Regions from separate parts of the Homo sapiens genome. Here region 2 is linked to region 1. Evidence: fine-mapped expression QTL. A gene starts in region 1. The other region holds a variant in brackets. All regions are shown on one strand. Distances are between the middles of the regions.

What was found.
Region 2: its variant is fine-mapped to the expression of SCAF8 in whole blood (TOPMed, PIP above 0.99).

Annotation. Positions count from the first base shown.
Region 1 is chr6:154,728,135-154,736,471 of GRCh38, reverse strand. SCAF8 (SR-related CTD associated factor 8) reads right to left here and starts at 3,056. Exons shown (of 20, transcript NM_014892.5): 1 at 2,542-3,056. The coding sequence starts at 2,571. RefSeq lists silencers at 2,284-2,883, 3,034-3,153, 3,184-3,423 and an enhancer at 2,520-3,023.
Region 2 is chr6:154,848,946-154,857,282 of GRCh38, reverse strand. It overlaps MIR1273C (microRNA 1273c), which reads right to left and starts at 3,923; the gene lies at 3,847-3,923. The variant T/C (reference allele first, on the strand shown) is at 3,103.

The DNA.
Region 1 (8,337 bases):
GATGAAACCCCATCTCTACTAAAAATACAAAAAACTAGCTGGGCATGGCGGTGGGTGCCTGTAATCCCAGCTACTCCGGAGGCTGAAGCAGGAGAATTGCTTGAACCCAGGAGGTGGAGGTTGCATTGAGCCAAGATCTCGCCATTGCACTCCAGCCTGGGCAACAAGAGCAAAACTCCGTCTCCAAAAAAAAAAAAAAAAAAAAAGTCTTGGATGGCCCTTTGAGGGGGAGGACCACATTATTAGGAACCCCCCCAAAGACAGACACCCAACAAAGTGTGTGTGGGGAAGAGGGTGGCGGCGGGAATTAAATCCAATGAGGGCAAAAAACAAAACAAAACGAAATCCCCCAGGCGTGGTGGCTCACATCTGTCATCCCAGCACTTGGGATGCCAAGGTGAAAGGACCGCTTGGGCCCAGGAGTTCAAGAACAGCCTGGGCAACATAACAAGACCTCCTCTCTATAAAAAATAAAAATGACGGGCATGGTGACACTGGCCTGTAATCTCACCTACTTGGGGGGCTGAGGTGAGAGGAGGACCCCTTGGGCCCGGGAGGCAAAGGATGCAGTGAGCCAAGATCACACCACTGCACTCCAGCCTGGGTGACAGAATGACACTCCTCAAAAAAAGAAAGATAGCTATGAAAAAAAATGAAACACCAGGCGCAGTGGCACACGCCCATAATCTCAGCACTTTGGGAGGCCAAGGCGGGTGGATCACTTGAGGTCAGGAGTTTGAGAACAGCCTGGCCAACATGGTGAAACCCCATCTCTACTAAAAATACAAAAATTAGCGGGGCGTGGTGATGTGCGCCTGTAATCCCAGCTACTCGGGACACTGAGGCAGAAGAATCGCTTGAAACCGGGAGGTGGAGGCTACAGTGAGCTGAGATGGTGACACTCCAGCCTGGGTAACAAGAGCGAAACTCTGTCTCAAAAAAAAAAAAAAAAGAAGATTCCCAAGTCTATTGCTCTAATTTATCAATGTTAAAAATAAAAAATGTAGTATTAAAAAAGAAAATGCTTTCCAAAAAAAGTTATGTATCACTGCTATTGAAAATAGCCCAAATATTATCTACCGTTTAGCCTCTTAGCTAAGATTCCCAAATACTGTTTTTCTTTTTAAAGAAATTAAAACAAGATAAAACTATGCAACGGCATTTAAAAGTACTGTCCTATTTGGGCCGTCACAGCAAAAAGCCTCGTATTTTAAGAGGTAAATATTAAAGATACTCTTTAACAATCATAGTATCGAATAAAGTATTGGCACTTTAAGAGTTCATAAAATTTATGCTAATTTAGTTACCAGCATAATTACACTTTTTCTTTTTCTTTTTTTTTTTTTTGTAGACAGAGTCTCACTCTGTCACTGGGCTGGATTGCAGTGGCGCAGATCTCGGCTCACTGCAACCTCCGCTTCCCAGGTTCAAGCGATTCTCCTGCCTCAGCCTCCTAAGTAGCTGGGATTACAGGTGCCTGCCACTACGCCCAGCTAATTTTTTGTATTTTTAGTAGAGACAGGGTTTCACCACGTTGGCCAGGCTGGTCTTGAACTCCTGACCTCGTGATTGGCCCGCCTCGGCCTCCCAAAGTGCTGGGATTACAGGCCTGAGCCACTGTTCCCGGCCATAATTACACTTTCCAAGGCGTACGGGTAGGGATACTAATGCTGACTGTGCAGATGTGTACTTGCTATGTTTGATGTTTACATTAAGGCCTATTGAAGTCGGAGTTTAAAAAGAAATTGAATACATCAAAACCTGTCTTCTTCCAGACTAGTAAATTCAACTACACAGTGAAAATGGAATCTGCTTTTTAAAATCTTGTTTGACACGTGAATGAACCAGCGAGAAATGTTTCCCCCATAATCTTCCATCTCTCGATGCACAGATCTCTCCCTACCATTTGTCTTTATGTCGTGATGGATTAGAAGAGGAGCGAGTAAAAATAAAAGATATTGCAGAATAACCTTTGCCTGCCTACCAACCATCCAATTAGCTCAAGTCCCTAGCTGGCAAATTACCTAGTCAACAATGCCTCAATTATAAACACTACGTGTAACGTGACCACAGATCAACACCCCGTAGGTTCATTTCCCCCACCGCCCCCAATCGGTGTTAGCCTCAGTGAGGACCCGGGAAGGTCTGGAGAGTCATGTCCAGCGTCCACTTAAATCCTCAAAGGCCCAGGAAGGAGGTGGGCGGGCCAGGCCTCGGCGGAACTGACCTCGAGGGACCTGTCGGGAGTCTCCGGGTGAGGGCCCAACCGGGTCTTTCCCTCCGAGCTCGCAGCCATTCCATAGGACGCCGGAGACGCCAGAACCTCCCTCCGCCCCAGGGCGGCCCTCCCCCAACCCTCCTCCCGGACCCGGGGGAGGGGCACCCAGAGGAGAAACACCCCTCCCCCACGGGCACTGCTAGGCCACCGCTCACCCCACCCTTAAAAAACCCGCAGGCCCGCGCCCACCCTCCGGGCCCCGGCCTCGACCAGGGGTGGGGGCGGTGCGGGCAGGAGCAGGGGAACCCGGCTGCCATACCAACCTCGCTATTGAAGGTCTTCACGGCCTCCATGTTGTCGCTGCGGAGGCCCCGAGCCCGGCGGCGGAAGAGGCGGCGGCCACTGCACTGGGTGGGGAGAGCGAGACGCGGGCTGCTGCGTGGCCGCGAGGAGGGGGCGCTGGCGGGAGAGCGGGCCGCTGCGACCTCGGGGCGGAGTGGAAGGGCACGCGCTGGCGGGGAAGGGCTCCCTCAGCGGCAGAGCGGCACCGGCATGGCCGCTAGGGCGGGGGGAGCGCCGTTCTAGGGAACAGAGGCGCTGCCGGGGCGGGTCGGCGGCGGGCGGGGGAGGGGCTGGGCCGCGGCGCCTTCTCTTCTCTGCCCCGCTCCGTTTCGGTCCCCCTCCCTCTAGCCCCTTCCCCTACACTCTCCACTCCCTTCTGCCCCTTCCTCCGACGGGCTCCTGTTTCACCTCCCCGCCGCTCGGGCCGCAGGAACCAGCCCCGCTCGGCGAAGACAGAGGAGGAAGCGCTGGCAGCAGCGGCTGCGGCATCCAATATGGCGGACTCGAGTCGGGCCGCGCAGTTCGGGGATCCGCGGCGCCGGCTAGCGCGCCCCCTGGCGACTGGACCGTGCGAGCCCCGGCGGCCGCGCGGAAACCATCGAGCGCGCTGGGGCCAGAGCGTCGCCGCCCGTAGGCCCGGCTGGGCTCCGCTGCCCTCGCCTTGGCTCCGGGGCCGCCCGCGCCTCGCCCCCTCCCCGCGCCCCGCGGACGCGGGAGTGAGCGCTGCGGCATCCGGGGGAACGCCGCGGCGGGTTTGTACAGCAGGAGGAGGCAACTCCAAAGCGCGGCTCTAATAAGAGCCTAAACGTGCCCAAGAAGCGGCAAGTTGAGGAAATGTGCGCGTTTCCCTTGTTTCCCGGTGGATTGGTCCTTTTGCACAAGCGGCAGGGTTTAGTTGCTTTTCACAACTTTACTGGACAGTGCCCTAAACATCCGCAGCCTTCGCCAAGAAAAAGTTCCTGGTCATCTATTTAGTAACTGAACTCAATTGTTTTAACTGCACAGGGAGGGAACATTAGAAACCAAAGCCTTGGATTCGGGTTGGGGCAGGCGGCGAGGGAAACAGGCATGCAGCAGCTCCTTGCAGGAAATGCCCGCTGCATAGGATCCAGGGACTGGAGTGGCACAATGAGCGCATTTGTCTGCAAGGCGGGAAGGGGACCCTAGAATGCACAACACTTGAATAGGTGAAAAGGGAACCCGTCTGTTTCGGAAGATGAATTGTTCTAAAGGAATTTTGCCCTAGGATACTTGGAGTAAAGGTAAATACAGTATTTCTTAGATGGATTAGGAGATGCTGCTAGTAAAAAGCCTTCTCTCTCGTGCAGCGCAAAATAAGGTACCAATTTAAAAATACTTATCGATGTTAAAAGATAGGGATGTATCGTGGAACCCCGAACACTGCTGTCCTCTTGTTGAAAGTCATTTTTCAACAATCATTCCCAAATTCACTCAAAGGGAGAGAGGAACATAAGGGCAGGATCGTACTTTTGGAGAGTTTTGGAATCAAGGTAGTTCCTAAGAGCTGTGCGCAGAGCCCCGTGAAACTGGGAAAGTAAGGCCCTTCTTGAGGTTTCAGAGCCTTCATTCTACTTCATTGGCAGCTTTAGTATAGGGCCTGGCTACTGAGAAGGTAACAGGGATAACTCACCAAGTGCTTTTATATTTACTTTCAAAATCTCAAATTCTGTCACAGATTTCTCCACCGTCTCCCATCTTCAGGCCTAGCCATGATCTTTTACTGACACTTGCAGTAGCCTCCTAACTGGTCCCTTGCTTGTCTTCCTACAGTTCATTTCCAGACAGTAGCCGAGGGATGTTTTTCTTAGATAAATCAGATCAGGTCACTCCCTTACTTAAATCCCTTAAATACTTTCTCATTGCCCATTTGATACCATCATAACTTCTCACCATGGCCTGAAGGCCCAGCCCAGCCTGCCGCAGCTCACACCACCTTCCCTTGCTCCCTGACTCTCCTCCTGCCACACTGGCCTTTCTGTTACTTGACAAGAAGCAGTGTTTTCATAGGTAGGACAATTGTGTCTCTTCACACAGGGTGCTGTTGCTCTTGTCCTTTCCATAGCTGACTCCTCCTCCTTCAATCTTCCTGAAAGAGGTCCCCTAATCACTCCATCTAAAGGAGCATTTACTGTGGCTTGAGAAAGTACTGCACTCAGTTCTGTGCATGCCAGGTTCTCACAATCAGAAGTCACTGCTTTGAGGCCGGGTGTGGTGGCTCTCGCCTGTAATCCGAGCACTTTGGGAGACCGAGGCGGGTGGATCACCTGAGGTTAGGAGTTCGAGACCAGCCTGGCCAACATGGTGAAATCCCGTCTGTACTAAAAATACAAAAAAAGTAGCCAGGCGTGGTGGCACGCCCTTGTAGTCCCAGCTACTCGGGAGGCCGAGGCAGGAGATTCGCTTGAACCCGGGAGGCGGAGGTTGCAGCGTGCCGAGATCGCGTGACTGCACTCCAGCCGGGGCAACAAGAGTGAAGCTCTGTCTCAAAAAGAGAAACAAAAAAGAAAAGAACGGAAAAAAAAGGCGCTGCTTTGGCCTGTGAGGGATTATTTATTAGGTCATACATGAAATGAGTGTTGATGGAATTACTTAGGCCTGAGAAATTAAAATGCAATACAAGCTAAAGGATAAAATCAGTGGTTAACATGCTTCACAATTTGATTTAATAAAGCTTCCGCATTCAGAATGGTAACAGAGGGCATAGTTTGATCAGGGTAAGCAGAGGGGGAAGATACAGAGAGCAGCCTAAACACAATCTTTTTTTTTGCGGGGTGTTGGGGCGGGGCTGGACGGAGTCTCGCTCTGTAGCCAGGCTGGAGTGCAGTGGCACGATCTCGGCTCACTGCAACCTCCACCTTCTGGGTTCAAGCGATTCTCGTGCCTCAGCCTCCTGAGTAGCGGGGATTACAGGCACGTGCCACCACACCCAGCTAATTTTTGTATTTTTAGTAGAGATGGGGTTTCACCATGTTGGCCAGGATGGTCTTGATCTCCTGACCTTGTGATCCGCTTGCCTTGGCCTCCCAAAGTGCTGGGATTATAGCCGCGCCCGGCTTTTATTTTTTATTTATTTATTTTTTGAGACTGAGTTTTGCTCTTGTCGCCCAGGCTGGAGTGCAATGACGCGATCTCGGCTCACCGCAACCTCCGCCTTCCGGGTTCAAGCGATTCTCCTGCCTTAACCTCCCAAGTAGCTAGGACTACAGGCAACCGACGCCACGTTCGGCTAATTTTTGTATTTTTAGTAGAGACGGGGTTTCACCATGTTGGCCAGGCTGATCTCAAACTCCTGACCTCCAGTGATTCACCCTCCTCGGCCTCCCAAAGTGCTGGGATTACAGGCATGAGCCACCTCGCCCAGCCTAAACACAATCTTAATATAAGAAGGCGATAAAGCAAGAGAAGGGTTAGAGGGGAGCCTGGGGTTCCAGTGCAATGACTATATACAAAATTTATACACAACTACATACAGAGTGTGAAAACAGTACCCGTGTGTGTGTGTCTGTGTGTGTGTGTGTATGTATGTACGCTAGGATTCTGATTGCCAGTATAACCAGCCAATTTGAGCTAGTTTAAGCATAAAATAATAATTCATTATTACAGTACAGGTTTTTCTCATGTAACCAAAAGTCAGAAATGTAGCTGAGTCCAAGGGAGGGACTTGAACCAAAATAGAAAACCTAAGAGGCAATGTAATCTCTGCTTATCTGCTTAATTTTTCTATTGCTTTACCCAATTCTCTGTTTTATCTAGTGGAATCTATTACTTTTGGTTTTATAGTTCTAGACAACTTGAGGACCTGAATGACGACCTCTTCCTTCCCAAATCCAAATTCCCAAGGAAAGAAATAAGGAATTTCATTGACCCAGCTTGGATTAGGTGACCATCACCAAGAAACTGACCACTAATTTGGTTCTCAAAAGACTGATAGGAAATAGTGGTCAGGAGTACTTCAGTCATTGGAAGAGATATTTCATAATCTAAAGTTTCTGGTGTTCTCCTGTAAATGTTATCATCAGATTGTCCCTGAGGACTAAATAGTTTCTGGGAGTAACTTATAGAAATGAATTCAGCCATGGCCAAGAGGTCAGAGTCAAAAATAGTCTAGAGCAGTAGTCACCATAGAACTTTCTGGGGTCATGGAAATGTTCTGAATCTGTGCGGCCCAATTCAGTAGCACTAGCCCTGTGTGGCTACTGTGCACTTGAAATACGGCTAGGGCAGCTGAGGAAGATAATTTCCAATTTTATTTTACTTTAATTGACTCATGTTTAAGTATGTGGCTAGTGGCTACCATATTGGAAAGCATAGGTCTAGCTAGAGGGTACTCGCTCCCATGGACAGGGCACTTCTTAGATAAGGGATAATTGTGAGGTAGCACTAAGCAAAAAAAAAAAAAAAAAAAAAAAAAAAAAAAACAACGTGAATTATCAGCTATTAGAAGGAATAATATATGTTTATGAGGTACTTTTAAAACGGGGCAAAAACCTGGAGCATTGTCTAAATTAAAACTAATTCCCACCCAATTGGAAAAAAGAAAACTTAGGAAGCAAACATTCCAGAATGCTTAGTAAATTAGGGTATAGAGACAAATGAATTATTATACTACCAATAAAATGATTTTTAAAAGATTGTGGGAAACTATTTGGCAGTTCCTCAAAAAACTAAGCATAGAATTGCCATATGATCTAGCAAGTTCACGTATGTGTATGTAGCCAAAAGAACTGAAAGCAGAGACTTGAACATGCATGTTCAGAACAGTGTTACTCACAATCGTTAAAAGGTGGCAGCAACCCAAATGTCCATTGATGGATGAATGGATAAACAAAATGTGGTACAATGGAATATTCAGCCTTAAAAAATGAAGGAAATTCAAGGCCCAGCACGGTGGCTCACGCCTGTAATCTCAACACTGTGGGAGGCCAAGACAGGCAGATCACCCGAGGTCAGGAGTTCGAGACCAGCCTGGCCAACATGGTGAAACCCCATCGCTACTAAAAATACAAAAATTAGCTAGGCGTGGTGGTGCGCTCCTGTAATCCCAGCTACTCGGGAGGCTGAGGCAAGAGAATTGCTTGAACCTGGGAGGCGGAGGTTGCAGTGAGTCAAGATCATGCCATTGCACTCCAGCCTGGGTGACAAGAGCAAAACTCCGTCTCAAAAAAAAAAGAAGGAAATTCTGATACATGCTATAACACAGTTTTACCTTGAAGACATTGTGCTAAGAGAAAAAAAGCCAGTTACAAAAGAACAAGTACTGTATGATTCCGCTTATATAAGCTACCTAGAATAGTCAAACTCAGAGAGACAGAAAGCAGAATGGTAGTTTCCAGGGGTTGGGGGAGAGAGAAACCAGGAGTTGTCATTTAATAGGTACAGAACTTCAGGTTGGGAAAATGAAAATTTCTGGAGGTGGCTGGTGGTAACGGTTGCATGACAGTGTGAACGTACTTAATGCCATAGGGCTGTACACTTAAAATTGGTTAAAAATAAGTTTTATATGTATTTAATCACAATTTTTCAAATTTAAAGAAATGGTTAGAATAGGACTAGGAATATAAAAGAAATGTATATGAGAGACTATTAAGTACAAAGGCGTAGAAAACAAACTGTTAATGTATTTTAGCTCTAAAAGTATGTATGTAAGGCCTGAAAATGATATGAAAAATAAAAATTGTATTAGTATACTAGGATTATGAGATTTTTAAAAATATTTTGTCCCTTTCTAATAATTCAGTAATTTCCTATCTCATTTT
Region 2 (8,337 bases), 120 kb before region 1:
TGGTCAGGCTGGTCTCAAACTCCTGACCTCAAGTGATCCACCCACTTCAGCCTCCCAAAGTGCTGGGATTACAGGCGTGAGCCACCGCGTCCAGCCTGTGTCTGGCTTCTTTTACTTAGCACAGTATCATCAAGATTCAACCATGCTGTGGCATGTGTTAGTACCATGCATTACTCTTTAGGTCTTCAAAACAAACACTTAAGCTCAACACAATAATTGGCCCATTTTACATTAAAAAAAAAAAAAACTGAGACAATGAGACATGAAGTAACTGGCCCTCTTTGAGTCTCTCTGAATTCAAATTTGTTCATTGCATTTCTATAGAGATGTGTAAATTGTAAACATTATATACCAACTTATATGGAATAAAGTATACATTAAAAAAGAAAACTGCTACGTAGGCCCATGACTATAAGTCACAATTTCTTTTAAATTTTTTCTTTTCTAAAAAATACAGCCAGTGATCTCTATGGTGTTTTCAAACTCCAAGATATTGTTAAAACATTAAAGGCTTATTCACTTTCTCTTCAACTCTGATCTGGTGCCCAATCTTTCAGAATAAAAGACTAATTACTAAAGATCATTGATATCATGATATATTGTTGAGAATATGGCTTCATAAAGTATACAGTGAACTCAACAGGTCAACATAGCAATAACGTAGTTCATAGTATGAAAAGGAACTCAGTATTTACTTATATTGTCTGTAAATATTACCTGTTTATATTGCAACAAATCAAAAAGTAGCAAACATCATTTTTAGGGTTACAGAATTTTTTTAAAAGTCTCTCTGGAAAGATCCTGACAGTTGCACATGAGGACACTTCCAGGAAGAATTATGGATGAGTTCTTGACGAACTGAGCCAGAATGTTATATATAACTGAACACTTCAAACTCAGTGTAAAATCTGCCCAGCAGCAGTCAGTAGATAATCTTTCTGGTCTTTTGGTAACCTTAAGGATGGACTGACTGACTTAAAATTGTCTGTCAGCATGTGTAGGTGTCTGCCATAGGTAATAACATAGATGTAAATGGCAGCTGGTGTATGAAACACCCTAACTGAATACTGTATTTGGAAAAAGCAAGCTGAATTGCTCAGAAAAGGCAAATATAATACATAAAAGACTGAAGAAGAAAGAAGGGAGTAAAGCAGTCTATATATTTATTGTAGAGCAGAATACATATTTATCGCAACATTATGTTACGTTATCTTTAATCAGAAATAGCATTTTAAAGATGTGACTTAAAAGAGTCTGAAAACTTCACTGAATTATATTTGAAAAAAACACCCCAAGACATTTTAGTAAGACTTAAAACACAAATTGAAATACCAATGTAGAGTTTATATTTATAAAAATAAGAATCAGCATTGTGAAGCATGGTAACTCCTTAATGGAAACTAACCAGAAGTGAGAATTAAAAAAAAAAAAAAATTTAAATATAGTTTGGGACAGAGAATTCTGAATCATATAATTTTAATTAAGGTAAACAGCCTATGTTATCAGCAATTGCTCTTCTAGAGTAACGCTATAAAATAGGACCTCCTGGAAATGTTCTGTACTTGTGCCGCTCAATTTGGTAGGCACTAGCTAATGTGGCTGTTGAGCATTTAAGTGTGACTGGTGTGACTGAGGAACTGAATTTTTAATTTTTTATAAATTTAAATAGCAATAGGTGACTAAAGGCTACCATACTGGACAGTACAAGTCTTGAGTAACACGTGACATCATGCTGTAAAAGGACCCTACCATTACTGTTCCGGAAACTTTCAAAAGTTAAAGAGGAGACTAGGGTTATTCATGTTGGGTGGGCAGGGAAGGGACAATAGGAGAAAAGAAATGTCCAAAGAAACCTAAATTTTACCTCCATGATTTTAGCAATGTTTCCTTCAAATCCATGGACTAGGGCTACGAATATTAAAAATAAAATAAATAAATAAAGAAGAAAGGGAAGCAGAAATCACAAAGACAGAAGGAAAGATTTCCTAAGTAATGGCCACTAAGTATTAGCAGCAGTCAACATTTATTATGCAGTCTGTTTTATGTATTGTACTAAGCACTGCACATGTATTTTCATTTGACCCTCAAAATGAGTCTTCCAGGTACTTTTTATTTCTAGTTTTATAGATGAGGATATTGAGACTTAGGAAGTTAATTTGCTGAAACAAAAATGCATCTTCTAATGAAAATCTAGCAACTAGCATCCTTTCTCTATGTTCTAGCTGTATCTTACGTACCCAATCTGTTACAGCAATTCATACATTATATTGAAATAGAATTTACTGGTTGTTTCTCACTAAAAGGTAAACTCCTTGAAGGCAGGAACTGTGTTCTGTCAATAACGTAATATCTTTCTCAATTACCTACTGTCACCAATTTTTATCAAGGCATCTGAAATATATATATTATTCAATAAGTATTTGCTGAATTGAGTATGAATTTGTTTCTACATTCCAATGATAAACATGTGGTAACACACTCTCTTTCTCTCAACCCTCAGGCATCTATATTTGAGTTTTGAAACAGGTTGAAAGTCTGTTTAAAATAGCATTTTGTAAACTATTTCAAATAATCTAGAAAGAAACTTGGAACTCTTATAATCCGATAAAAACATTTAACTTTAAGCTATTTTTTTCAGGCCCATTAATTTAAAATGTCACATTTCCCATATTTTTAGAAATATTTTAATAGAAACTTTAATACTGTGACTGAAACATTTCCTACACAAAAGTTGTGCCATATAACAACATTAACCTCTGTATGTTGATGTGTAAGCACGAAGACATACCTCTTAAGGTACTTGAGCTGAACATAGTGCCTACGTTAACTTTTAAGTAATAAAGCTTTGATGGTTTCCAATCTTTTCATCTTATTTATCAATGACACTTTTTAAAAACCTTTCACATTTTACTGAATTCTATTCTCTCCTAATGGGCACATTGCCAGTATCTACTAAGGTAGAGTGAGGCCTAGGACAAACTTAGGGAAGCCTGTCAAAAAATCAGAAAGAACCAAAGAAGGTATTCCCTCAGTCCTAATCCACAGACTTCCACCTCAACATTTCATGAAATTCAATCTATAGGCAAAATAAAAATATTCATA[T/C]GAGACATGCTCTCAAGGCTCTAATATTACCAGAGATGGTATCAAATAAAACTCTTAAATACACCATGGAGCAGCTCTAGTTAAAAAATGATCTCACCTTCAGAAACAACTGTACATATGACTTCTGCTAACTGTTGTCTTAGGAGGAAACAAAATCATTATTCAGTTTAACTGCTATTTTTAAATTTGTTTCACTTTTCTTGTCACTAAGCTTATTTACAAAATTCTTTTAATCTATAGTAACATCAAAAATAAGACTTCGAATATATGAAAACTTGTGTTTGTTGGGGAAAAGATAAATGAACTACAACTAAATTTTATCACACCTATGAATCACTTGAGGATCTTTTAAAAACGCAGATCCTGATTCGGTGACTCTGGGATGGAGCCTAAGATTCTGAGCATCATAAGCTTCCAAGTGATGCTGAAGTTGCTGGTGCAAGGCTTTGTGTAGCAAGTAACTAATTTTTCCAGATTTCAGTGGTTTGATTCTTCTAGGTTTTGTTTTGAAGACAGGGTCTTGGGCTGGGTGCAGTGGCTCACGCCTGTAATCCCAGCACTTCGGGAGGCCAAGGCAGGTGGATAACCTGAGGTCAGGAGTTCAAGACCAGTCTGGCCAACATGGTGAAACCCCGTCTTCAGAGAAAAAAAGAAAAAAAAAATTAGCCAGGCATGGTGGCAAGCACCTGTGGTCCCAGCTACTTGGTACTGAGGCGGAGGTTGCAGAGAGGTGAGATCATGCACTCCAGCTTGGGCAACAGAACGAGACTCTGTCTCAGAAAAAAAAAAAGACAGGGTCTCGTTTTGTCGCCCAGGCTGCAGTGCAGAGGCGTGAACATAGCTCACTGAAGCCTTGACCTCCTGGGCTCAACTGATCTTCAAGTGATCTGCCTACCTCAGCTTCCCAAGTAGCTGGAACCACCAGGGCACACCACCATACCTGGCTAATATTTTTAGGTTTTTTGTAGAGATGGAGTCTTACGTTGTTGCTCAGGCTGGTCTCGATCTCCTGGGCTTAAGCAATCTTCCTACCTCAGCCTCCCAAAGTGCTGGGAGTGTACTGTGCCCAGTCTCTTCTCGTTTTTTAAATGTTCATTTATGCTTTCAACAAATTTTTACTAAATGTGTACTATGAGTCAGACATAAGCATTAATAAGATCTCTGTCCTCAAAGAGCTCATTTGCTTAAAATCAAAAAAGCAAACAGGTCAACAAGTAGGAGTCTATACGGTATAGATGGGGACAGCATTTCAGGGAGAAGAAACAGTCAAGCAGTAAAAGCACTCTGGAGGAACTGCTAAGGGTATCAAATTGCTGAAACACATCGTATTTACAGCAGAGATCAGATAAGAAACTGGAAAAGTAAACAGAGTTAGGTCATGATGAGTCCAGCAAGTCAGAATAAGCAGTTTAAATTTTATTTGGTAGGTTACCACAGAAATGAAGAACTTTTGGTAGGTGTGTTCAGATGTGTATTACAACATTAATGATCGTATAAACTAATAGCAGCTAACATTATTTACCCAGAAACTGTTTCAAGAGCTTTACATGTACTCAGTCACTTAACTCTACATCAACCTTATAAAATTGGTACTAACATGTTCATTCCCACTGAGAATTCTGAAGCACCAAAAAGAAAAATGATTTGCCCTCAATTCAAACTCTGGCAACGTAAGCTCCAGATGCTACGCTCTCTCTTCACCTAGGAAAATTCTGGAAAAATTACTCTGGTAAGCATTGCAGAAGTTGTGTTTGTCAGTGTTGAGCCTGGAAGATAGTTTTGAAGCCACTGGAACTGTCAACGAAGGACTGAATCAAGGCCGGGCGTAGTGGCTCACGCCTGTAATCCAACACTTTGGGAGGCCAAGGTGGGCAGATCACGAGGTCAGGAGTTCGAGACCAGCCTGGCCAACATGGTGAAACCCTATCTCTACTAAAAATACAAAAATTAGCTGGGCATGGTGGCATGCGCCTGTAATCCCAGCTACTTGGGAGGCTGAGGCAGGAGAATCGTTTGAAACTGGAAGGCAAAGGTTGCAGTGAGCCAAGATCATGCCACTGCACTCTAGCCTGGGCAACAAGAGCGAAATTCCGTCCCCCGCAAAAAACAGGACTGAACCAAGGCAAAGGCAATGGAAATGCAAATTTCAGTTATGTTTAGTGAGTAAAAATCCTAACCACTTTGTTACTAAGGGATGAGAGCAAAAGAGAATAGTTTCCTAGTCTCTAACTTGGGAGATGGAAAGAATGGGAATGTCAACCACTGGGAAAAGAGAAAACATTTTTGGCGGGAATTAGGAAGAGAAAATATAGAGATTAAGCCTGAGATACTTATAAGCTATCTAGGTAGAAAGTCAGGCAGACCTGAGTATCAATGGTGTACTCACTGGTATGTTGGTCCTAAGTGAGCTCATGTGGGCATGAACATGTGTGAACAGATGGAACCACATGGGAAGTTGTAGAATTCAAAAAAGAAACACTGACGATGGGCACAGGAGAGTGGTCTGCAAAGTCAAGGGAGTAGTTTCAAGAAAGTAGTCACTAACATTAAATCTGTGGTGCTATCAAGTAAGATAAGCAATGAAAATGGCTGCTAGATTTGGTCAATAGATCACTAGTGACTTTGGAAAGAAATTTCAATGGATTGGTGGGGTCAAAAGTCAACGACAGTGCACTAAGGAATAAAAGATGAAGAGACTGGGATAAATGAAAACACTCTTCCCAAAGATCATTCTACAAAAGAATAAACAGACCAGTAACTAGAAAAGAGAGAGGTTTTATTCTTTTTTATAAGTGAGAGATTTGAGCACATTAATAGCAACACCTGGTGTCAGTGAAGAGAGAGAGTTTTAAAAAAATACAGGAAGGCTGGGCGCGGTGGTTCACGCCTGTAATCCCAGCACTTTGGAAGGCCGAGGCAGGCGGATCACCTGAGGTCGGGAGTTCAAGACCAGCCTGACCAACATGGAGAAACCCCGTCTCTACTAAAAACACAAAATTAGCCAGGCGTGGTGGCGCATGCCTGTAATCCCAGCTACTCGGGAGGCTGAGGCAGGAGAATCACTTGAACCCAGGAGGCGGAGGTTGCAGTGAGCTGAGATGCACCATTGCACTCCAGCCTGGGCAACGAGAGTGAAACTCCATCTAAAAATAATAATAAAAAATTAAAAAATACAGGAAAGAGAAGACATTTGATGATGCAGTGTTCTGAGTGAACCAGGATAATTAAAAATTTGCTCAGGACCTACAGCGTGTTATGTCTAAAACTAGAGCAAGGTTTCCCAGCCTGGGCACTCCGGACATTTGGGGACAGTTCTTTGTTATGGGGTGGTGCCACCCTATGCGCTATAGAATATTTAGCAGCACCCTAATCTCTAATATTCACTGGATGCCAGCAGTACCCCACACCAAGTTGTGATAACCAGAAAGTGTCTCCAAAAACTGCTAACTGTCCCCTGGGCGGAGAAAAAGCAAAATCAACTCTAGCTGAGAACCACTGGTCTTGAGGCAGAGACCAGATCATTTAAATGAGTTGAGAGGTTACTGAAACAAATTACTATAGTCCCATCTACTAGTTACATAAGGAAAAGAGGCAAGTTTCTCTGCTGGGAGGGGAGTAAGATGGTAAAGGTGGCATGTGTTGTGGTGAGTAGAAAAGTTTTGAAGTAACTTGGTGAAATTCACCTACGGGAAGGCAAAACTGGGTATCAGAAATACTTTTCCTCCTCCCAGACTTAAAAGGCAAGTGTATGTCTCGTCTCTTTATGGGCTCTCCACAAAACAGTACACAAAAGGAACCTGAGGCATGAAGAAGGAACTGAAGGACCTTATCAAAATATTATTTCCAACAACTTAAGAAATGGGGTCATCCTGAAAAGTGTTCTGACCCTGAGAACCCACCTTTTTGTTTGCCCAAAGAAGAGTTTTAAGGTTAGAAATTGAATCTATCTTTTTTTAACCAGAGTATACAATTTGATGATAATTTTGTAAAGTCTTCAATAGGAAGGCTTCTATATTTTATTTACCCCAAACCCTATCCATTACAATCAAAACTTTGATTTTTAAGACACAAAAATAATCTGGTGTTTAAAATTAGGCATCATCTTTGAAACACTGTCACATTAACTTTCCTATACTTTTGGAGATGAGTCCGTATTATTACTAGTATTTGTACCTTGTGTCCTGAAAGCTTAATTACTGCACACTGTAAGAAACAACGGATCCAAAGATGTTGTAACTAATTGAATCTCCCTTCAACTTTATCTTCTAAATACAGTCTTTACTTCTTAAAAATTTGTTTTAACAATCTTAAACTTCCTGAGAAGGTTGAAAATACACTTGCTCACAATACAGCTTATGAGTTCCATGGCACTCATAAAAGTGAAGAGACCAGATGTAAGATAACAACTCCTAGCATTTGTCAGCATTATTAACAAGGAAAGTGATCTGAGAGAAACTTATGTCTTTAAATATCTCCCAGCCAGCACAGTGGCCCCCACCTGTAATCCCAGCTACTTGAGAGGCTGAGGTGGGAGGATCACTTGAGCCCAGGAGTTCAAGGCTGAAGCAAGCTATGATTGTACCACTGCACTCCAGCCTGGGTGACAGAGCGGAATCATTAAAAACAGTAACAACAAACCAAAAACCTCCAAAGACATAAAACTATAAAACCATGCCCTAGAAAGTTCTCTTTTTCCTACAATCACAAAGTGACTGAAGCACCTTTATGTGCAGCTCACAGAACTGAATTTGCACTTAGCAATTTTCCTTAAGAGATCTAATGCATCTCAACGTGAGTATCACTCTAAAATATGCTGAAACAACAATCTCAGATAGGACAGATTCTCACCTGTGATAAACCTCAAAATCTGCACATTTTCAAAAATGTAACATTTGTTATTAGAAGCCAACTGTTGGTCATAATCAGTTTCATTATGGCTAAATAAAATCCCTGTAGGCTCTACAACCATTTGAAGTTAACTTGAGTATGAAAAGAGAAGTGCTTTGGATACATTACCAATTCTCTTCCAAACAGAGAAAATTCAAGCTGAATTCTCTTTCAGATCTGCTACATGTACTAATGAAAGGACAAAAAAAAAAAGATTCCACATTCCAAAGACCAATGTGGGCGACATCATTCAAATGTATCTCTAACTGCAACCTGACCTGCACACATGACGCCTCATTTGATGGTCTAAGATAGGGAGCATTTTAGAAAAAGTCCATGAGCTTTACC